Linked DNA regions of Homo sapiens: regions 1 and 2 are each linked to region 3. The links come from fine-mapping of genetic effects on gene expression. A gene starts in region 3. Each other region holds a variant in brackets. All regions are shown on one strand. Distances are between the middles of the regions.

Region 1 (7,932 bases), 41 kb before region 3:
CAGTGGCACGATCTCAGCTAATTGCAACCTCTGCCTCCCGGGCTCAAGCTATTCTCCTGCCTCAGCCTCCCAAGTAGATGGGATTACAGGTGTGCACCACCCTGCCCAGCTAATTTTAACTCCACACTTTAACAACACCAACTGGCCGGGAATGGTGGCTCACGCCTGTAATCCCAGCACTTTGGGAGGCCAAGGTGGGCAGCTCCCATGGGCTCAGGAGTTCGAGACCAACCTGGGCAACATCACAAAACCCCACCTCTACAAAAAATAGCCAGGCATGGTGGTGCACACTTGTGATCCCAGCTACTCAGGAGACTGAAGCAGGAGGATCGCCTGAGCCCAGGAGGCAGAGGTTGCAGTGAGCTGAGATCACGCCAATGCACTCCTGCCTGGGCAACAGAGCAAGACCCTGTCTCAATTTAAAAAAAAAAGAAAAAGAAAAAACACCAACTACCCACGCTTCCCTGGCTTCCCCAAATAACCTTTTCTTCATGCCTCCATTTCTCTGAATGTGTTATTTCTTCTGCCTGACTGCATGCTGCCCGCCCCCCTGCCCACATCCTTCCCCTAGCCCTTCTATTTGACAACTCCAAGTCAAGCTCCCATCTCTTTCGAATCTGCTTAAAGCATATCTCAGCGAATTTCTGGCCTTTCCTATCACTCTCCCTCCACGATGAACCAATTTATGCCACAGATTGTTCTACCATCAGGTAAATACTTCTCTTCCTGCCCATTATCATGTTACATTTCAAGTGACTGTCTTTCTCTCCTGGCTAAACTGAAAGGTCCCTGAAAGGAAGAACCACGTTTGACAGGTGTGCTTGTGCCCAGCTCCAGCATGCAGCAAAGCCTCCTCATGTGCTGAACTAAGAGCCCATTAAAGCCACACACCTGTGGCTCATTTCAGGGTCTCTCTTCAAAGGATCAGGAGTCAGGTTCATAAAGACATTTTAAGTTCTTCACCTCATGCTCAAAATCAACTTAAAAACTGTAATAATCAACATTTTAGTTAAAAAAAAACTATGTTAAACTTACCGACTTAGTTAAATAAAACATGAATGAATATATTAGAAGGATTGCGTTTTCCAAAGGTGTGACACTTGCCGGCTCTTCGGCGGCTGTCTCTGGTTGCTTGTTTGCATCAATAGCATCCATAGGAGTGTCTTCTGTTGTAACTGGCCCTGGAATTGGGAGGAAAGATAGACATTTTGTGCTTTAGAATAAGAATTCTCTTTAAAAAATACTTATTGAGTATCCACTAAATATTAGGCACTGTGCCTGGAAAGTAAACGTTCTCATCTCTCACTGGATGTTTACTGTGCACTGTGGTGAAATACTCTTTGTGTCGGTCTATCCTGGACTATTACACACTACAGTGTTCTGTACTGTCTCCTATGAGCTTATGCTATAAACATACTTGGACCCCTTCACTGTATTTTAAGAAGTTTTACTTACCATGTCCAGATAGCAAATCAAAAAAAAGAACTGCATTGCATTGTATTTTATTTGGAAAGAGAGGGGTAAAGTAGAGGAAAAACAGAATTTGTGAGTTTTAGAGCAGTGGTTCTCCAACTGTAATTTGCATCAGGTCAGTCTTTCCTGGAGGGCTTGTTAAACACAGATTGCCGGTTCCACCCCCAGAGTTTCTGATGCTGCTGGGCTGGTTGAAAACTACTGTTTTAGAGCATAAGGCCTTTTAAGAATAATATTTTAGATTGAAATAATTTACACAAGATAGTGACAGCCAAACATTGGTTTGTAGGTTAGTTATAGTCTCTGGTGTCTTTCCTATTTTTGATCTCCATCTGTCTTGACGCCTGCTTTTCTCTCAATTAGCTCTGGGATCCTTTTTTCCTTTGAATTTAACAAGTCTCTAGCTCCTGCCTTTGACAATGAATCTCCTAGAAGGCCTTCTTTATGATTTCTCCACTTTGTAGAAAAAAATTAGCAGGCTTTACCTGGGTCCAGGTCTTTCTCAGTATTTGGCTTCTGTGACACTTCTGAGGCATGAGTGTCCCCAATCACACGTTGGTCCAAGTGGGTGGGTTCTTCAGGAACCTGCACATTAAGTTCTGCTGTCTTCTCTCGTGAGAAATTATCTTCATGCAGTGGTTGCATCTCTAGGGTGAGAAGAATACACTGGGCTAGCACAGCTTGATGACACTACCTGTTAGGCTAATCCCACTGACCACACCAGGGCACCTCAACATTGACCTCCATGCATGGGCATCCCATGGAGCACAACTGGGCAGGGAAATAAGAGTTTCAGTTTCTTTTATTCCATTTAAAGGATGACTAATCTACATAATAAAATCTACAGAGGAGTATTTCATAAATAAATACATTTATGGTAGGGACTTCAGTAACATCTTTCCTTGGCAAATCAGCCTACACCCACACAAATAAATGTGCAAATGAGAATTCCACTCAAGAGCAGAAATGTGAAACATCTATTCTGCAGAGAAGTAACATGAACTCTTGCATACCCTAGCATGCCTTTCTCACAGAACTAGTACAGACAGGGACATTCCACGCCAAGGCAGCTTGCTGAGATGTCTTTCGAATACTTTCAAAGTACCTCTAAGAGTCAAACAAAGTGAAGCCATCTCCTCTCCTAAGAGGCTTAGGGGACAGTCCAATGTGATCCACAGCAAAGGTGAATTTCCTTGTAGCCTCATATTTTACCCTGAAAATTCATCTGAATATTGCCTTCTTATCCAAAATATATGTTTTAATTAAATGCAAAAAAGTTCTCCTCCCCCATTTCTTAGGAAAAATTAGCACTCTGGAGTAATACGTTTTCCTGTGGCTTCCTGTCCCCTTGGTACTCTCAATTCAGATACATCTGTCTGAAAAGCCTGGATATACCAGGTGCGGTAGCTCACACCTGTAATCCCAGTACTTTGGGAGGCCAAAGTAGGAGGGTCACTTGAGGCCAAGAGTTCAAGATCAACCTGGGCAACATACCAAGACCCTGTCTCTACAATAAATAAAAATTATTTGGGCACAGTGATGCATGCCTGTAGTCCTAGCCACTTAGGAGGCTGAGATGGGAGGTTCGCTTGGGCCTAGGAGTTGGAGGCTGCAATGAGTTATGATCATGCCACTGTACTCCAGCCTGGGTGACAGGGTGAGAGCCTGTCTTAAGAAAAAAAAAAAGAAAAGAAAAAAAGAAAGAGGAAGGAAGGAAGGAAGGGCAGGTGGGCAAAGGGAAAGAAAAGAAAAGAAAAGAAAGAGAAAAGCCTGGATGCAGAGAATAGAACAAGGAACTAGGAATCAGAATGCTTATGTCAGGATATTGGCTCGGGGTTAATTCAACTGAATGGCTTCCACGCATCAAGCACTGCATTCGAAGGCATCCCTGTCCCAATCTTGATTAATCTGCATGCAAGAACCTTACGGCCCAGGAGGGTTTAACTGGAGTAAGTGCTCCCAAGAAACAGGAAGAACAAGCCATCCACAAAAGATAAAATTGGGGAGAACGTAGGAATTTAGCCAAGGCATTGATCTAAAAGTTATACCAGTCAATCCATGGTTACAGAGCAGTTATCTGACGACTGAAAAATTGTGTTCAATAAAACCCTTTCATAATTTTACATGACATTTGTATTTTGTATATTACTTTCTGGTTTATATCTTTCTCTTTAGCTTTTTACAAAGTTTCCTTTTGAAAATGCTAACCAGTCTCAACTATTCTAAGGGAAACGGCAAGAAATTCTTCTCCATGCTCCAGCCTAAAAGAAAGATGGCAGGAAGGAACATGTGGACCTCCCTGTGTTGTCCCTCTCCTTTAGGCACATTGGAAACTGAACAGAGCTTCACAAGATAGGAGGCACCTCAGCGACCCACCCACCTGCTTCTCCAGCCCTGTTCTACAAGGCCATAGGCATCTCACCTTCCATTGCTCCACCCAAGCCTTCCTCTAGAGGTGGTGCCATCACCAGTGTGGCTGTCTCCTCTGCTGTGGAGTGCTTGTACCTGACAAAATAGATGAGGTCTTGAATGTCATCAAGCACTGCAGCCTCTTCAAATATGTTATTTTCGTTCATTCCCAGATCTCTATTTTCAGCCACACGAGTATCAAGCATTTTTTCTGCTATGCTCAGAATTTGTGACTCAGAAGCACGGAAGACCTTATCTAGGACTTTTTCCATATTATAGGGCAGGCTCTCCTGCTGCGCTGACTTCAGTTTTGATGACATTTCTTGTAGCAAGGCTTCCAGCTCATGGACATTAAAGTACTTCTGGAACCGCTGCAAAGACTGTTGTTCTTTAAAGAAGCTGCTTATGATAAGTAAGTCCTCCCTCTTGTCACTATGCCCTGGCTCTACACTTGTATGTGGAGTCCAGTGGAACGAGTCATCTTCAGGTTCTGCAGCAGCAGACCCCTGGCTTTCTGTGCCCATGTACTTCTCTGTGTTCTCATGGTCCTCTTTTGAGAGTTCTCCCTCAGGCTCCCCTGCAAGCCCTGAGGTCTTCAGATGTTCCTCAGGGTTGTCGTTCTTCAGATAATCAGAATCTTTATTCTGAAACACTTCACCTAATTCTGGAGTCTGAATTTTTATGCTGTCAGAAAAGTCACTTCGTTCAAATGGTCTCTGTGCTTTCTTATCTGCCAGAGGGCGTTCTTTTTCCACCATTGTATTTGGTTCCCTGCCTCCTGTGTTGACCCCTTTGGCAGCAGTCTCACTTGTTTTTTC[G/A]CTATCCAAAATCATACTAGTTTCTTGCTTGCTTTCTTCAATTTCTGGATCTGGATGAATGGTCCCTAAAACTGCTCTGTCAGGGACTTGCAGATTAACATCAAACTGCCTGCCCTGATTCCCAGGGTTTTTTTCTTTAGACCGTTTTGCATTTATAGCGTTTTCATCCTCTAGTAGTTCTTCAGAGGGATAATCATCCTCTTCTACTTTAGAAAGGAAAGCTGGTCCTCCTGTGCTGTCAGTTTGGTCTGTCTGTCCTACCTCTGTGCCCTGCATTGCCTTGTGATGAAAAAACTCTTCATCCAAGGAGTCCTCTTTGGCTTCTCCCTCAGAGAGCCTTATCTTCTCACTCATTTGCTTACTGGCTGTGGCAGCCACATCTCTTTCTTGTTGCCAGGGAAGATTTCTTCCCAGAATGGGAACCTCGTCTTCCAGTTCTCTGGGCAAATCAATCTCATCTGGAGAGGAGAATCTAGGTTGGTTTTGAGTTTTAAGAACTAATTCCTCTTTCAATTCCTCACGTTGATGCTCCACTGAAAGCGTGTGCAGTTTGGCCCCATTTACCAAAGCGTCTCCCTCCACACTGTCTCTGGATGCGTTAGGGTGGTCATCTCCCATGAGTGGTGCACTACCCAGGGATTCCTGTTGAATCTTTCTGTCATTCATTTGATTCCCTGCAGCTTTCTGTGCAGATTCACTCTCTGAGCCACCTTCCAAAATCTGCTCTCCAGGCTTTTCTTCGTGGAGCATTCCTTTTGAGATATGAATAGCTGCTCCTTTTAGGTCATTTTCTGTATCATCATAAGCTGATTTTAATGTGTCTTTACCCTTTTCAGCAGCTGGCATAGAGTTGAGGTTATTGCTGTGAACAGAACTGTGCACAGTCATGCCTTCTTGATTTTCATCCTCTAATTCTGTCTTATCTTGTACCAGGCCCCTCTTGGATTCCTGAACTCCCCTCCCTTTTCCTTTAATGTGATGTTCTGCGTTTACTTCTTTGTCATTATTTGTTTTAGGAATGTCTACAATAAAAAGACCATCATCTACATTGTCAGGGTCACTATAATCTGTTGCTGACTGTGGTTTCCCCTGTTTGCTATCTGGGACTAATGCATCATCATCATCTTCTTTTTCTTCCTCTGAACTAGAGCTCTCTAAATCCATCGTATCTCTTGTTTCTTCACCTCCTGTGACAATAGAGAAGATAGTGTCCCCCCAGGTTGTTAGTATATTTTTATCATCATTTTTGATGCCAGGGGGCACAGTTAGCTGAACCTTGTCCTCTTCATTTGAATTCTGCTCTTTATCTGTTGGATATTTCTCAACGCCAGACTTTGCTGGAGTTTTCATATCTTCCCCATCTGTAAAGGTAAGTAATGGCAACTCATCAAAGTCTTCTTGGTTCTCCTCATCTTCCTTTCCAACTGCATAATACTCAGTATCCAATTCCTCATCAAAATCATCTTCTAATGAAGTAACGAGTCTGGTTGTCTCATCATCAGATACAAGTGCATCAGCTGTTGAGCCAAATTTGGTTTTCAAGTCTAGAGTCATTTCTTTTTTCAAAAGTTTATAGGCATCAATCTTATCCTGTTCATTTGAGACCTGAGAACTATTGCTGGTTTTGTTGTTTTCACTTTCTGGCACTTTTAGTTTATCTTGCAGCATTTCTTCAAAAGATTCAAATGAAGCCTGCTCTCCCTGAGCATGATTTGCTTGGCTGTTTGCATGGGAGTGGTGCTTCTGAGTTGTAAACTGTTCCTGAAGATCCTCAGTGTTTTCTGAGAATACACTATCACTTTCCTCTGAGTTGGCTTCTACTGGTTCAGGTTCAGGTTCCCTTTCCTTAGATAATTCAGGGTTTTTTTCCATATCCTGTAAAGTTTTTTCTACAGCTTTCTCAGAATCTGTAGCTGCAGAATTGTACAGTTCCAAAAACCCTAAAAGTTCTTCTACATTATAATTATGAAAATCATCTCTTCCTCCATCAAAACAAACAAAATCCGTCTCCTGTAAGAAAAAGAAAAACATTAGTCTGTCAATAGCCAAGTGTCACCAGAGCAAAGTCTTATCCACGTTAATGATTGAGATAATCTCGAATTCACGTTTGGCTCTAGAGGAGCTTTTGCGTCAACACTGGGCACTGACTGTTCTTGGGCAGTGGGTGGATAGGAGGCTGGAACCCACTTTCCCATCTGAGTAATACTCCTGGCTTCCCTTCATTCTCTCTTCCCCAGGGGAAGAATGATTCATGTGGCTGGTGAGTTTGCTCAGTCCCAATCCTGTTTTCTGTTTGGGACCTGCTGGAGAGGAAACACATATTCTGTTCCTCCATGCTGTCCGTTTTACAGGGACAGTCCCACCTGGGGAGACCCCTATTGGATAGCTCTGTCTGTGACTGGATAAGTCCATCTTAGTTTAGACCGCAATGTTAGAAAGCCCATTATTTCTGCATACTCCAAACAGCTTTATCAGTAAATAATGGGGTCATTTTGATCTCCTATTTGCCCAACTCCTGGGTCTCTCAATTTTGTTTTGAGCACAGGTGGGGAAAAGTAAGGTGTCATTTATTGGGTTCCCCAACTCCCATCATCTATGCCTGATGTTCTGGGAATTCACCTTATAACCCATCCAGGAGGAGCTGAAAGACCATCAGCTTCTCTACATTGTGCCCTCTATGTCATACTTCTCTGCTCACCCAGTCAGAAACAGGCAGAATCACCTGGCTGTCAGGCTCTCAGTCTACATGGATTTGGGGCTCATATTTTCCTTGGACTGGGAAAGAAATCAGCTTCAGAAGGAACTTACTGAGATACAGGTGCATGAGATATAAAAATGTAAGAGAACAAAGAATGGTGTAAAGGAGGCTCCCCATTTTCATACTGCCACAAGAACAACTTGAAAACAAGATTCAGTAAGGTAGGTACCTAACTCCAAATAAGGATTCTAGCCAGTCACTAAGATCTGCTTTCAGGACTGTCAAGTAAATCTGTATTTTTCCCTTCCTCCACCAGTAAGCAAATTGACATACAAGGAGCCATAAAATGATGGAAAAGTTAAAAAACCAACAAAGATAACTTTCTTCCCCTAACTAAACATTCACAATCTTCTGGTGAGAACTGTCCTGTGTACTGGAGATGAATGACTTCCCTCTTTCCATCATGCACACTTCTGAGCCAATTTTTTTAATATTAAGGGAATCATGCAGTGGGAACTACAATTAGTATACAGG
Region 2 (7,932 bases), 36 kb after region 3:
GAGCTGAGATCATGTCACTGCACTCCAGCCTGGTGACAGAGCGAGACTCTGTCTTGGAGAAAAAGAACTCACGCATCCCCTCTCCTTTTTCTCTTGGAAATGAGGATGCAGCGGTATTTGACTGGACACTGGAGGAAACTCACCGGTGGGATAGTGTCCCTGAGTCACACAGTAAACCCATGGGGAAAACCTGGCCAGAAGCCAACAGCAACTTTCCTGGAACATGAGCTGAGCTTTATAATATGTTGGAATAATTGGTAGAATAAGTGCTTCTTCAGAAATGTCTTGGCTTTTACATTTACTGCTGGAATAACTAGTAATTGAGTTCCATGAAGACTCACTAACTTCAGAGCAAGTCTAATATTTAGATGGCGAGACACACATTTCCCTTTGGCTTATAGTCCTACTAATTCTAAACCATCTGCAAGAAGGTTAGGGGGCAAATTGTGCTTTGTCAATAGTTTATATTTCAATATTACTTAGTAAGAAAGGTCTATCAATAAAGAAGCACTTAGAAAGTACATGTAAAATGAGTAGGTGTTCCACAGAGCCAAAATAAACCAAGTTAAAGCTTCCACATAAATAGGGAGTCCATAATTCGGTTGTGTAGGAGTTCTGTATAAGACCAATACTCTAGCAATGAAATTCCCAGACGATGTGGAAAAAATCTGAAAGCATAGGCCAAGATCTACTTCCTGAAACTTTTAGTCAAAAGCTATAAAACAGGACTATGATTTCTCTTGATCTCTAAGAAAATGGAGGTGAGAATAAAAGAAATGAGTAGTTTTGATTCTTGGTTTCCATACAAAGCTGTCTCAACATTTTTACATCAAATGTTCTTATCAAATGTTCAGTAAGAGTAGTGCAAGTCACCTGTGAAACTTTTTTTAGGTCCACTGATGTTTAAGCTGCTTCCATGAATAACAGTAATAGCTAAAATTGGGCTTTACCTTTCATTGTAAAACCACCACAGTCCTATGAATTATTCCTATTTTACCAATAAAGAAAATGAGGTCATTGGAGATGAAGTAACTTGCCAAGGTCACAGCTCATAGGTGTTGGCACCAGGATCCCAACCCAATCAATGTGGTTCCAAAGATCACACTCTCATGTAGTATCTGTATGGCCTCCCAGTGCAGTCAGTGTTGACTACATGCAGAGAGCTGAGCCAGGTGGTGGAGTGAGACAAAGCAGCAAAAAGAACCCAGGTCTGCTCATTTCTGCCTGCCAGCATCATTTCACAAAGCCCCTGACCCTGTGACGACATGCAACTCTCTGGAAAGATGCCTTGAAGACAAAACAGGGCACAGGGCACCCCCACATCGCTTGCCTGAGTCACTACATTCCTTAAATGACCCCAGTCCTTGCCTTTTCTTACACATGAGATGTCTGATGGGATTAGTGATTATGCTTCTGTAATCCATAACCAGATGTACTCTTACACCTAAACCTTGATGAGATTCTGCTTGAATGTAACTTTTGAGCAAGTTTGATGTGATTTTGCACTGTACTGAACCCTACCACCTGTATATAAGCAGTGAGCTGAAATACTGTGCTGGAACAGTCTGACAGGACTGCTTGCTTATATGGTTACTACTTATAACCATTCGTCACGACTATTTTAAGACACGTTAGCAATAACTAAAGATAATTTAAAGTCTTGTTTTCTCCTTGAAACCTCTGAATGTATATATTTAGGATGTACAACCTGATGTTTTGATATACATTCTGAAATTATCACTATAATCAAGCTAATTAATATCTTCATTACCTCTACATAATTACCATTATGTATGTATTGTGTATGTATGTGTGATGAGAAGATATAAGATCTTTCTTAACAAATTACAAGTATGTAATACAGTACTGAACTGTCATCACCATGCTGGACATTGGATATCCAGAAATCGTTCATCTTGTATCACTGAAACTTTGTACCATTTGACCAATATCACTCCATTTCCCCCTTCCCTCAGCCCCTGGCAACCATCTTACCCTCTGCTTCTATGAATTGGACTCAGATTTCACATACAAGTGAGATGATCGTGCAGTATTTCTCTTTCTGTGTCTTGCCTATTTTAATTTTGCTCAGCATAATGTCCTCCATGTTCTGAATGGCAGGATTTCTTCCTTTTATAAGGCTGAGCAGTATGTAATTGTAATTTTATAAACCCTATCTTTATTCATCAAAGGACGTTGAGTAATGCTGCAATGAACATAGGAGTGCAGATATCTCTTTGCAACCTTGATTTCAATTCTTTTGGGTATATACCCAGATATTTCTATTTTCAATTTTTTGGGGGAACCTCCATATTGTTTTCCATAATTTACATCCCCAACAGCAGCATACAAGCGCTTCCTCTTCTCTTCATCCTCCCTAGCACTTATCTTTGACCTTTGATACGATTCATTCTACCAGGTGTGAGGCTGTATCTCCTGGTTTGATTAGCATTTCCGTCGTGACTGGAGATGTTGAGCACTTATTCATATACCTGTTAGCAATTTGAATTTCTTTTGAGAAGTGTCTATGTAGGTCCTTTGCCCATTTTAAAGTGGAATTATATTTTTGTTATTGAGTTGTATGAGTTCTTTCTATATTTTGGATTATTAGTCCCTAGCTGATTAATTATATGGAATGTGAATTACATCTCTGTAAAGCTGTCAACACCCCATTCCCTTCCCACCTCCCCTCATAAAAAGAAATAAAAGAATGTTCTATGGAGTCAGAAAGGTCTGGGTTCAAATTCCAGCATGACTGAAGCCCCCCACCTAGCCTGGGCCTCACCTTTATTCTGTAAAATGGGATGGTCTGGAAAGGTTGATGTAAAGTGCTGAGCATGGGTCCTGGTAAATGTTTTTTCTCAATAAATAGAAACATTGTTTTATGTTAACATTTTTGAAAAAGGAAAAGCAACAAAAATTAAAAAAACAGATAGGTGTGCCCTTTTGGACCCAGTTATTTACCTATATTTACAGCACAAGGGCTTTTTCTGCTGGATTGAATTAGAATCTTTGTATTTTAAATATTCCAAAAGGAAACAAGCAAGACCTTTGATGGATGGTCTACAAATAATATGACTAACATCTGAATAAGTCAATCCAAGATTCATGCTTCTAAACCAATCTGCCACCAGGTAAGAGTCGACTCAGTCCCATAAAAAATACGAAGCTGACTTCTATGTTGTTTTCATAGTTATGAAGGTAGCCTTTAGCTCAGTGAGTAGAGGCGGCTCTTTGTTTCCGCCCGTCAGTCCCATAGTGATACCACTGCCAGTTGTTTAATTACAACTCCCCTCCTGCCTATACCAAG[A/G]ACTCCCAGATAATCTTATCAATGGAACTGAATCTTCAGTCAATACACTCTTCAGTAGGCTGCATCAGACAAATTTTTCCAAATGAAGAACAAATAAAAGTGATAACTACTTTCGTTCTTTTTGGGTACATCCTGATGGAATGAAAAAGATCTGGGCTGTAATTCAGAACACCTGAATTGTGTTGCCATCTCTATTCATCTAAAGTGGGGCCCTAAAATATTTCACTGAACCCCTCTTGGACTTCATTCATTCATATGCTCACTGGTAATATATCTACCTTGCTGACTTAATTGTCTTGAGAGAACTGAAGATCAAATGAAATGCAGTGTGGGGAAATACTTTGTAAACTGTAATGCTTCGTACAAGTGAGTTGTTATACTTTCTCTAATCTGAGGTACAACCTGTTCATCTTTAGACTGTGACAGAGGGAGTCTGAAGGCAGATAGATAGTTACATCAGTAAACTATATGAGAAGCTACTGAGCTAGAACATTTCTTTTTATATTTTTTCTGTTGTGTTCCATGACCTGATTTAGGATAAACACCTGACTCTCAACATCACTTTTTAAAAGGCACTTGCACTGGACATGGTGGCTCATGCCTATAATCCCGGCACTTTAGGAGGCCGAGGGGGATAGATCACTTGAGCCCAGGAGTTCAAGACCAGCCTGGGCAACATGGTGAAACCACCGTCTCTACAAAGAAAAAAAAAAGTAAAAATTAACTGAGCGTGGTAGCACACACCTGCAGTTCCAGCTACTGGCACTCCAGCCTGGGTGACACTGAGACCCTGTCTTGTGCGGGGCGGCGGGGGGGATGTTAAAAGGCACATGCTATATGAAACTGTGTGCGTGTGTGTGAATGTGTGTGTTACTGCTGTGGGCTGAATTGTGTCCCCTAAAAAAGAATGGTTGAAGTCCTACCCCCCAGTACCTCAGAATGTGACCTTATTTGGGGATAGTTTTTACAGAGACAATCATGTTAAAATGAAGTCATTATGGTGGGCACTAATCCAGTATGACTGGTGTCCTTATAAAAGGGGAAATTTGGACACAAACGCACACAGGGAGAAGGAGCACCATGTGAACATGAAGACAGAGCTTGGGGTGATGCATCCACAATCGGAATGCAAGATTGCTGGCAGACCCCACGAAGCTAGGGATCAGGCATGGAGCAGTGTCCCTTGCGGCCTTCAGAAGGAACCAACCCTGCCAACATCTTAATCTCAGACTTCTGGGCTCCCGAGCTGTGAGACAATACATTTCTGTTGTTTAAGCCACCAAGTTTGTGGCTGTGTTAACAGCAGCCCAAGCTAATTTTTTAAAGGATTATGTTTGCTTCAAAAGTGGAAACTGAAGTGATTTCAGATACTCTGTCTGGTCCTAGCTTATAGTTTCAGAGTTATTTTATAAGCTCACCTAATGTTCAGTGAAAATGTCTTTTCTGTTCTTTTCCATCTATAACTTATCTAAAAGCTCCAGTCAACTTTCATTATGATATTCTTAATCCCCTGCAGCCGAATGTCATCTCTCCGTCCTTGGGATCCCTAATGGCAGTTTGTTCCTCCCTTACTGTTACCTTAATCTTATATCTGCCAGTATTATTTGGATACTTTCATCCTTTTTTCTCAGAGCATAAACTCCTTGAAAAAGTTTGTTTTATATGTCAGTTTTCTGTTAAACATTTCTATTCCAGCATAATACTTCACACAAAATAGTATGTATTTACTGAATTGACACCAAGACATCTTTTGTAAAATTATTGCATGATTATTATATAATTACATATATATGTATATAGACAGAGCCTCGCTCTGTCACCCAGGCTGGAGTGCAATGGCGCAATCTCTGCTCACTGCAACCTCCGCCTCCTGAGTTCAAGTGATTCTCCTGCCTAAGCCTCCTGAGTGGCTGGGATTACAGGCACATGCCACCACGCCCAGCTAATTTTTTTTTTTTTTTTTTTTTTTTTTTTTTTTTTTTTTTTTTTTTTAGTAGGGACAGGGTTTCACCTTGTTGGTCAGACTGGTCTCGAACTCCTGAACTTGTGATTTGCCCACCTCGGCCTCCCAAAGTGCTGGGATTACAGGCATGAGCCACCATGCCTGGCCATAATTACATACACGATTATATCTAAAACGTAGTATCGTCTGAAATGTTACATATTTTAGTAATCAGAAACTCATGCTGTCACTGTCTGATCAGATTCTGCCCGCCCATCTTTCCCTGCTAATCTTGCAGTGACTCTGCTCAAAACAATAAGATCTCCATATTGTTCACGACAAAGGGGAAATCGATACATAAATGTCATGAGAAGATCAGAAAATACTCTCAGGTCCTACCTGGATGAGATAATGCACTCATTCTTCCATATCCCAGGGTTTGATGGTTCTGAGAAGGCAGTGGGGGTGAATTCACTGGCTGAAATTAGTCCATGTTACTCCTCCTGCTTAAGGCTTCCAGAAGCATGACATTCTGTGACATTTGAGCAAATAACCCAGAAGAAATAGCACAGTCAACAGTGAATCATGGATGACATTTATTTTATTTTAATTTTAATTTATTTTGAGACAGGGTCTCACTCTGTCACCCAGGCTGAAGTGCAGTGGTGCAATCATGTCTCATTGCAGCCTTGAACTTCTGGGCTCAAGCAATCCTCCTACCTCAGCCTCCTGAGTAGCTGGGACCACAGCCATGCGCCATCACATCTGGCTAATTTTTTATTTTTATTTTTTTTTCTAGAGACAGAGTCTCACTATGTCGCCCAGTCTGTTCAAACTTCTGGGCTCAAGCCATCCACCCACCTCAGCTTCCCAAAGTGTTGGGATTATAGGTGTGACCCATGTTTTAAAAAGCACCACTCAACTAGGTATATTATATATATATATATTTTTTAAACAGAGTCCCACTCTGTCACTCAGGTTGGAGTGCAGTGGTGTGATCTCGGCTCACTGCAGCCTCCACCTCCTGAGTTCAAGTGATTCTCCTGCCTCGGCCTCCTGAGTAGCTGGGATTACAGGCGTGTGCCACCACACCCAGCTAATTTTTTTATATTTTTAGTAGAGACAGGGTTTCGCTATGTTGGCCAGGCTGGTCTCAAACTCCTGGCCTCAAGTGATCCACCCGCCTCAGCCTCCCAAAGTGTTGGGATTACAGGCATGAGCCACTGCACCCGGCCAACTAGGTGTAGTACTGAACAGTACAAATAGGAAAGCAGGACTATTCTGATGATCATTCTGACTACTCCCTCCTATCTATCTATCTATCTATCTATCTATCTATCTATCTATCTATGCATCTATCTTTCTGCCTACCTACCTATCTACAGGATCTTCCTGTGTCACCCAGGCTGGAGTGCAGCGGTGTGATCACAGATCACCACAGCCTCGAACTCCTATGCTCAAGCAATTCTCCCACCTTAGCCTCCCAAGTAACTAGGACTACAGATACACGCCACCACACCCAGCTAATTTAAAAAATTTTTATAGCAACAGGGTCTCACTATGTTGCCCAGTCTGGTCTTAAACTTTTGGGCTCAAATGATCCTCCTGCCTTGGCCTCCCAAAGTCCTGGGATTATAGGCATTAACCACACCTGGCCAATTTTGTTTGTATTTTAAATGCTATTTGGGGCTTTCATAATCCAGAACATTGTGAGTATAGACTTGGCTAGACTGAGGTTCACTGTCCCTTCTTGATGATACCCTGGCAAATACTGTTTCTGGCGATGAGTTGGGCAGCCAGGTAGGGCACCCTCTGAAGCAGCACATCTGGAACAAGAAGAAACTTGGACTTCATCTGCGTTTCAAACAGAAGCTTTTGCCAGTAAGGAAATTCAAGGTGGACCAGAACCATGGAAAATGCTGAAAGGAGAGTTAGCTCAAGTGCCAAATGTCCCCATTGGCCTACACCTTGGCTCATGCTTGTTTGGGTTTGGGGCTGTGTGAGTTTGGGACTCCTGTTCTGCATTTATTCATTCAAGAAATATTTATCAAAGCCTGTTATGTGCAAGGGATGTGGACAAAGGAAAACACGTTTTTATTTTATTTTATATTTATTTTATTATTATTACTTTTTGAGATGGAGTTTCACTCTTGTTGCCCAGGCTGGAGTGCAATGGCACAGTCTCAGCTCACTGCAACCTCTGCCTTCTGGGTTCAAGCGATTCTCCTGCCTCAGCCTCCCAAGTAGCTGGGATTACAGGCGCCCGCCACCACACCCAGCTAATTTTTTTTTTTTTTGAGATGGAGTCTTGCTCTGTCACCCAGGCTGGAATGCAGTGGCATGATCTCGGCTCACTGCAACCTTCGCCTGCTGGGTTCAAGCAATTATCCTGCCTCAGCCTCCTGAGTAGCTGGGACTACAGGCATGCGCCACCATGCCCAGCTAATTTTTTGTATTTTTAGTAGAAACGGGGTTTCGCCATGCTGGCCAGGCTGGTCTTGAACTCCTGACCTTGTGATCCGCCCGCCTTGGCCTCCCAAAGTGCTGGGATTACAGGTGTGAGCTACCACACCTGGCCGCTAATTCTTGTATTTTTAGGAAAGATGGAATTTCACCATGTTGGCCAGGCTGGTCTTGAACTCCGGACCTCAGGTGATTCACCCGCCTCGGCCTCCCAAAG
Region 3 (7,932 bases):
AATAGCAAAATGTAGGTAAATACACAAAAGGTAATATATACTTTTCTTCTCTTAATTTCTTTGCGATACATATGACTAAGGCAAAAATAACAATGTGCATAGATATGATATATATGACAACAAAGCACAAAGGACTTGGGGAGGTGGTAAGTAGAACTTTACTATTGCAAGGCTCTTTTATTTTACATGAAGTATCATAATTTTAACTCTAAGGCTGTGATAAGTTAAGAATGTATATCATAATTCTCAGAAACACTGTAAAGCAATAATGCAAAAAGATACAGTTAAAGCCAACAGAGGAATTAAGATGAAATATAAAAACATTAATTAACCCAAAAGAAAGCAGGAAGTAAAGAACAAAGGAACACAAAACTGAATGGGACAAATCGAAAACAAATAGCAAAATGATAGACAAACTCAACTATCTGTTGTCTATAAGAGAAGCACATTAAATTAAAAAACACAGGTTGAAAGTAAAAACATGGATAAAAATATACCAGTAAACAGTAAGCTAGGAAGGCTGCAGTGGCTATACTAATATCGGATGAATTAGACTTCAAGATAAGGAGTATTATCAGCAATAAAGACATTTCATAATGATAAAATGGTCAATTCATCAGGAAGACACACGAACCATAAATGTTTATATGCCCAATAACAGAGCTTCAAAAATGCAAAAGAAAAGCTGACAAAACTAAAGTAAGTGGCAAATTCACAGCCATAGTTTAAGTTTTACACTCCTGTATCAATAATTAATAGCAACACTACACATAAAACAATCAATACAATATAGAAGATCTGAAGACAACTATTAACCACCTTAATCACGTTGACATTGATGGACACAATGCTCAATAACTACAGAATACATATTCTTGTCTAGTGCTCACAGAACATTCACCAAGATAGACTATATTCTGGGCACAGTAAGTCTCAAAAAAATTTTAAAGTATCAAAATTTCAGAGTTTGTTTTCTAACCATGGCAGAAATAAACTGGTAATTTCCAATAAGACTAGTCATAAAAAAGATAGAAGATGCAAATGATCAATGTTTGTGTTTCATTTATCTATTCCTATGTAAGAAATCACTGCAAACTTCAGTGGCTTAAAATAACAACCATTTTATTGCTCACAGTGTTGTGAGTCAGGAATTTGTGTAGGACTCACTGAGAACAGCTCATGTCTGCTCCATGTGTTGTCAACTGGTCTCACTCATGTAGTTAGATTCAGCAAGTGCCTGATTTAGGATACACAGTCTGAGATGAATTTCTTCACGTGTCCGAAACCAAGATGCTGACTGTTGGTTCCATGTGGCCTCTCTTTCCATGTGGTCTTTCATACTGCAAGAGCTCTTTCTTCACGTGGCCACTGTCTCCAGCAGGATAGACTGGTCTTCTTTTTGTAGCTGCTCAGAGTACTGAAACATGAAAAGAAAAAAAAAAGAAAAAGGAAGAAAAACCTGTGTCTTTGAGGATACAGTCCCTGGGGTGGAATTCTAGCCCATGTATTTTGGTTTTCTCTATATTATTATCTGAGATGTTTTTATTTTTATGCTTTCATGCCACATTCCTTTTTTATTCTCGTTAGCTGTGATATAGGATAGTCTATTTATGATGAGGTCTCTTCAACTGTTTGGCTATGTGAAGTTTGTTCTTTAATAGATTGCACAGGAAGCGTTCATGGAAATAATATTCCTTAAATGACAGTTTGCAACTTTAAAAACAACATAATTCATCACCATATTAAGTTGCTCTGTAGCACAAAGTAATTGTAAGAACATGTTTTTCTTAGGACATGTTTTCTTATAGATTGAAATCTAGAAAAGTCTTTGCATGCTTTATGTTTTCATATTTGTCATGCCTTTTTTTTTTTTTTTTTTGAGACATGGTCTTGCTATGTTGCCCAGGATGGAATTGAACTTTTGAGCTCAGCGATCTTCCTGCCTCAGCCTCTGGAGTAGCTGGGACTACAGATGCCTGCCACGGCAACCTTCCCTCCTTCCTTCTTGTTTATGCTATTGGATGTGATCTAGTTGATTTTTTTTATCTCTTCTCTCCAACACATTTTCTGTCAGAATTGCAGCATGGGAAAGAAAAAGCATAGGTAGGGCACGTTTCCTACTGCTCCTTAGAGCTGTTTGAGAACTTCGAGGAAAATCTGAAAGCTCTTCCTCATTTTCGGGAGAACATAAACTTTTTTCCATGTAAAATCATTTCTGGGCTGGTTTTGGTGAATTTACACCTCAAGCCAATGGGAGAAAAGTAGCCAGACTAAGCCTCTAGACAAGAAAGTAATGATTATGTATGTTATTTTGTGTGTGGTCTCCTGGACTACGCATAATTTATGTTAGCCCTGCCTGTAGAGTTAGAGCACAAGCTTGAGTGAGGACTCAAGAACTAATGACAGAGAGAGCAGCAGAAGGAACTTTTCTTGCAAGTCCTTAACTACTGCATATTGTTTTATGCAGAAGACAACATAGAATCAACTATTTGTAGCATTTTAAGGAATCCATGTACAAAATTTTTTTTGACAGGGTCTCATTCTGTCGCCCAGGCTGGAGTGCAGTAGGGTGATCACAGCTCACTGCAGCCTCGACCTCCCTGGGCTCAGGTGATCCTCCCACCTCATCCTCCCGAGTAGCTGGGACTAGAGGCATGCATCATCACCCCAGCTTATTTTTTTTTATTTTTATTTTGTAGGGACGGGGTTTCATCATGTTGACTAGGCTGGTTTCGAACTCCTGAGCTCAAACTTTCCGCCTGCCTCGGCCTCCCAAAGGGCTGGGATTACAGGCATGAGCCACCGCGCCCGGCCTCAAACTCTTACCAGACCCTTTAATTTCCTCTCCGATACTCCGATTCTACTCAAACTGTTCACCTACACAGAGGAAACTCAGTGATTCCTGGGGGAGCCTATGCTATATTTGTGCATCCTCATTTGTGGACAAAATTCTTTCTTGCTGTGACTTGAAAGCAGCCTCCCTTTACCTTTCACTTATTAGTCCTAGTTCTGTTCTCTGCTGCTAAGAAAAAGGGTCTGATCCTTCTTTCACTGATCAGCCCTCCAAATATTGGAGAAGCACACTGCGTTTCCATGGGCCTGCAGTCCTTTTCCGGGATCATCTTCCCTAGAACCCCTCAACTGTCTCTCATTTCACACGGTTTAACCATCTTACCTTTAACCCATATTTCATTTGTTTGTCTCAATGTCCCTCATGAAAGTTGACCCAGACGGGTCCGCAGAACAACTTTTGCTGAGAAGGCAAAGGAAATTCTCGCCCAAATTGTGGAGAAGGCAGTCGAACCAATTAAACCTAAAGCTAAAACTGTAATAGAAAAGAACTTTCAAGCTCGCAATGAAAAGGCTATGCATGGATTTATCTCATCACAGCCACTAGCCACACCTCCACTCGTGCAGTGCGCCTGCGAGCCGAGCAGAAACCAATGGCCCATCGTAGTGAATTTCTCGGGTAAAGTGACATTCTCCGCTTTTGAATGCTCCCTTCGCCCAGCCGCCAACCCCTCGCCCCAATTTCCATTTTAAATGAAAGTCTCCCACTTTCTAGCTGAGACAGACAAAAATAAAACTCGGGCAAAACCAATCGCAGAGAGGCAGCTCACTGTCACTTCCTGGGTCACTTCCAGAAGTCACTTCCGGGGTCGAGGCGAGGCCAACGATACGCCTGCTGCAGCAGGAGGAGTTACGAGCCGGGCCGCGCGCTGCCTAAATACCTAAACCAGGTTTAGCGCCTGCTCATATAAAGCTCTCCTAACTCGTCTTCCGGTGGGAATTTCTTCACGTGGGCCGGAGTCGGAGACTGAGTTTAGCTTTACTGAGGAGCTCTAAATTTAGGCGGGTAAGTGCCGCAGATATCGCCCGTGGTTCCTGCGTTTAAATGGAACGGGAAGGGGTGTGTCAGGATTCATCCATGTTCTCCTGATATTTCCTCCTAATACCTGAAACCCTTGGGGTCTGAAAACGAAAGAAGGGGATAGAGAAGCTTTGGTTGCCGTGGCAACTGCGGGTCACCAATTTGGGTTTTTGAGGATTTGGAAAGGGAGGATTTGTGTAACTACTCCTGAAAACACGTGATGGGTCGGATTCAAATTCAGTTGTTACTTATAATTCATACTCCTAGCCACATGCTTTGAATTTAGAAGGTTTACTCTGGGTATAATGCAGAGATGCAAAATCTGAGCCAGGGTAATTGTTTAGAAAGCTGATGCGGTAATCTAGGCACTGTTTGAAGGGGTCTTGAACTAGAGTAGTGCTGTAGGATTGAAGAGGGGAAATAGGGGAAATTTGGAGGTAGTATCAGGGGCACTAATACTCGATTTCATATGGGTAATGAGGAAGGGGCCCTGAGCATCTTTAGGAGTAAGTCTAAACTCACCTTGGCTTATGATGATTTTTCTAGGTTCGTTTCTCACCTTCCGCACCCCTCCTCCACACGCACCTCGAATTCTAGTCATGCCAAGTAGTTTGGTGTTCTATTTCCTAGACTATCGTCCTCACCATTTTTTGTGATGTTAGGCAGGTTCCATCATTTCACTAAGCCCCTCAGTTTTTTCAACCTTCACATGGAAGAAAGTAATAGTACCCACCTCAGGATTGCTGTGGGGATTAAATTAGATAATTTATACTTCTAGTGCATAGTAAGGGCCTAATAAATATTAGCTGCTACTTCTATTCTTACTGTACTTTTCATATTGTTTTGTTATTATACGTTTTGCTGTTTCTTCGTCTAGACTTGAGATTTTTTAAATTAGAGGGGCAGTATCTTATTTATCTTTACATGGACTTGAAACATTAGTGGTTCGGTCTTTAATGGATCATTCATTTTGGCTGTTGCTGACATAGTTAAATTCATTTTTTACTTTAAAAGAGCTGACAGGTATAATGCATTTTGCTAATCAAATTATATTTATTAGATAAAAAGATAGCCGTTTTTCTGTACAACTCAGAAGACTGTGGATTAAGATGTACAGAAAGTAACTGATATCTCATCTTGTAATAGGTATGAGTGATTTCAGTGAAGAATTAAAAGGGCCTGTGACAGATGATGAAGAAGTGGAAACATCTGTGCTCAGTGGTGCAGGAATGCATTTTCCTTGGCTTCAAACATACGTAGAAACTGTGGGTAAGTAAAATAATAACATTGAGCCATTTTAACTTTAAGGAGGTGGTAAGATTCAATAGGGATACAAAATGAATAACCAGACTGGTTTAATTTTCAAGAGGAATATGTGGAGGGTTTTTTGGCTAAAAGCCAAAAGAAATCTTTTTTCTTTTAGAATTCTTTGCCCTTGGATTAATAATAGATAGTCTGTATTATGCTAGATACACATTTTTTCCAGTAATACTTACTGAGCACTTTTATCTCTGGCATTGATTAAATATTGGGGAGTCATAGGTGAAGATATGGTCTCTGCCATTGAGGAAAACATGCCTAGGAAGTGTTCAAGAAGTTGCTGTTGAATTGCATTGAAATTATTTCGAATAGAATTGATCGTGTAATAGATTTTTTTTTTTTTTGAGACAGAGTCTTGCTCTGTTGCCCACGCTGGAGTGCAGTGGCTAGATCTTGGCTCACTGCAACCTCTGTCTCCCAGGTTCAAGTGATTCTACTCAGCCTCCCGAGTAACTGAGATTACAGGTACCAGCCACCACGCCTGGCTAGTTTTTGTATTTTTAATAGAGACAGGGTTTCACCATGTTGGGCAGGCTGTTCTTGAACTCTTGACCTCAAGTGACCTGCCCACCTCAGCCTCCCAAAGTGGTGGGATTACAGGCATGAGCCACTGCACCCGGCCTAGATAAAAGAGCATTTTCCCCCATTTTTATCTAATGTAAATGCAAGCATGATTTTCTATGGGATAAAATTTCCCCCATTTTTATCTAATATAAATGCAAGTATGTTTTTCTATGGGATAAATTCCCTATAAGAATATATTTAATATAAGTATAAATAAAAGAAGCTATTATCTGTATGCTGGCATATTGAGTGGTATAGTCCTGGGATTACATTTGAACCAGCATTTTACTTACTGCCCTTAAATATGTGTTTTTTTGCCCAGCCTTTTCTCCCCTTGACAGAGATTCCTTGGCTCCTAAAATTTCGCTTCCATTTTTTTCTTTTGATCTAAGTATCATCCCATTTAATGATCTCAGTAAATTCTCAATAAATTTTTATGCTAGGCAGTTTAGGTAGGATGAAACTGAATCTCAAAGACATTAAACTCTTAAGTGGTATCAGGAGTCAAATCCAGGTTTGTCTGATCTCAAAGCTTACACTTTTAACGACTGAGATGCATTTTTAAAAATGAGACAATATATGTAAAGTACCTAGCATAGTATCTCATGCATAATGAGTGTTGAAAAATAATAGTGCCTTTCCTCTCCTCATTTTATTTTTGCTAGATTAATGCACATGGCTTAAGGCAGATTTGAATGAATGATACTTCAGAGGTAGTGCTACCGCATCCCTGGTAGGGAACAAACTAGTAATTTAAATTTCCTATAGTTAAGTCATACTTGGGTATGTTTCTGTTACCAGTGTTCTATAGAAAGTCTGAGTCAGTCTGCAAGCAGATAGGTTTAAGACCAAAGACCAAAATTTACATGCTTAGGAATATTTTATATGTCATGGATAGCCTGTTAAACCGAAAATACTTTTGGTCTGCAATGAGAAAATACTTGCAATTAATATTGACATTGTGCTGGTAATTAACCATAATAGGAAAACAAAATTGCCTAACAATTGTTCTATTTATTTTTTATGCTGGTAGATATCTTTTGGCTTTTTGAAGGGCATGCCCAGCAACCCCCTTAGAATAAAAACTTTGAAGACAGGGCCAGTCTGGATTGAAGCTGTATGATGAGTACCTGCGATAGTGCTTGGGACACAGTGGTGCCCAAAAAATACTTGTTGACAGATTGATAAGTTTCCAGATTCTTTGAGTAGCATATTAGAAGTTAGGTTGATGACACTAGTTCTTTATTGTACATCTCTATTCCATGTAAAAATGTGTTTTCCTTGACAATTTTTTTTTCTTAAAGTCATCAGGATCAAGTAAGACTATCTTTTGCTCATTAAAGAATGAAATGAGAGGAGAACTTTTCCTGAGGTAGCTAGGCTAGGTTGGAAGACAAAAGTATTTTCCAAACATTTAGGTATAGTTATCTAAAGTCAATTTATAATCTCAGTTGTGAAAGCTTGAGCGATAGAAGGGAGCTTAGCCTGAGAACAGTTCTCTCCTTTAGGTAAATAAGGGATGTTTTAAGGACGAGGTGTTTTGTCAGTTTCCTAGGCTAGCTGGCAGGTATTGCCACTGATGCCGAGCAGCTTTGGTGTAGATCTTATAAAATGCAGCTTCTGATTGAGAGAGCTGGGCATAGTACTCTGTAGTTGTAATGAGATTCCAGGTGATACTTCTGCTGCATGCCAGGACCACATTGAGTAGCAAGGGCAGGTCCCCAGGTGATTTGTATGTACATTCAAAAGTCTGAGAACACTAGTCTAGCACAGTAGTCTTCAAACTTTTCACTTTTGTATCCCCTAGTTTTTTCTGAAAAATTGAGTACTACCTTGCATAGTTTTAAGGAATCATCTGAAAAAATTTTATTGTATGTTTAATATTTGCAAGAGATAAAATTTCCAGCATGTTGGTATTTTTAAATGACTATATATTACTTTATATGTGATGGAGTCCAAATAGCACAGGAATGGCATAGGGTTTTAATACCTTGCGTTATTCATTTTAAAAAAAATTATGAACAAGCTTTTAATAGATGGACATTTTATGTTCCTCTTTGTTGTACTTCTTGCAATAAAAGTATGTATCAATATTTATACTTTTTTTGTTTATATCCTGTAAGTTTTAAGAATTAAAACTTTTTCTAGGTTGAGACATTGCTATCATTAATAGTTGT

Evidence for each region. PIP is the estimated chance that this variant, and not a neighbour inherited with it, causes the effect.
Region 1: its variant is the best candidate, but not a certain one, in a credible set for the expression of TAF1A in fibroblasts (GTEx, PIP 0.64).
Region 2: its variant is the best candidate, but not a certain one, in a credible set for the expression of TAF1A in testis (GTEx, PIP 0.83).

The regions. Positions count from the first base shown.
Region 1 is chr1:222,626,353-222,634,284 of GRCh38, reverse strand. It overlaps MIA3 (MIA SH3 domain ER export factor 3), which reads right to left. Exons shown (of 28, transcript NM_198551.4): 4 at 3,896-6,710; 5 at 1,959-2,120; 6 at 1,036-1,181. Among named protein-coding and RNA genes, the nearest start is that of MIA3, 12 kb to the right of the region's middle. The variant G/A (reference allele first, on the strand shown) is at 4,701.
Region 2 is chr1:222,549,593-222,557,524 of GRCh38, reverse strand. It overlaps a transcript of TAF1A not described here. Among named protein-coding and RNA genes, the nearest start is that of HHIPL2, 5.5 kb to the right of the region's middle. The variant A/G (reference allele first, on the strand shown) is at 3,311.
Region 3 is chr1:222,585,651-222,593,582 of GRCh38, reverse strand. It overlaps TAF1A (TATA-box binding protein associated factor, RNA polymerase I subunit A), which reads left to right and starts at 3,650. Exons shown (of 11, transcript NM_005681.4): 1 at 3,650-3,856; 2 at 5,018-5,140. The coding sequence starts at 5,020. TAF1A-AS1 (TAF1A antisense RNA 1) reads right to left here and starts at 3,663. Exons shown (of 3, transcript NR_110613.1): 1 at 3,621-3,663; 2 at 3,176-3,325; 3 at 950-1,417. RefSeq lists enhancers at 2,617-3,149, 3,150-3,683.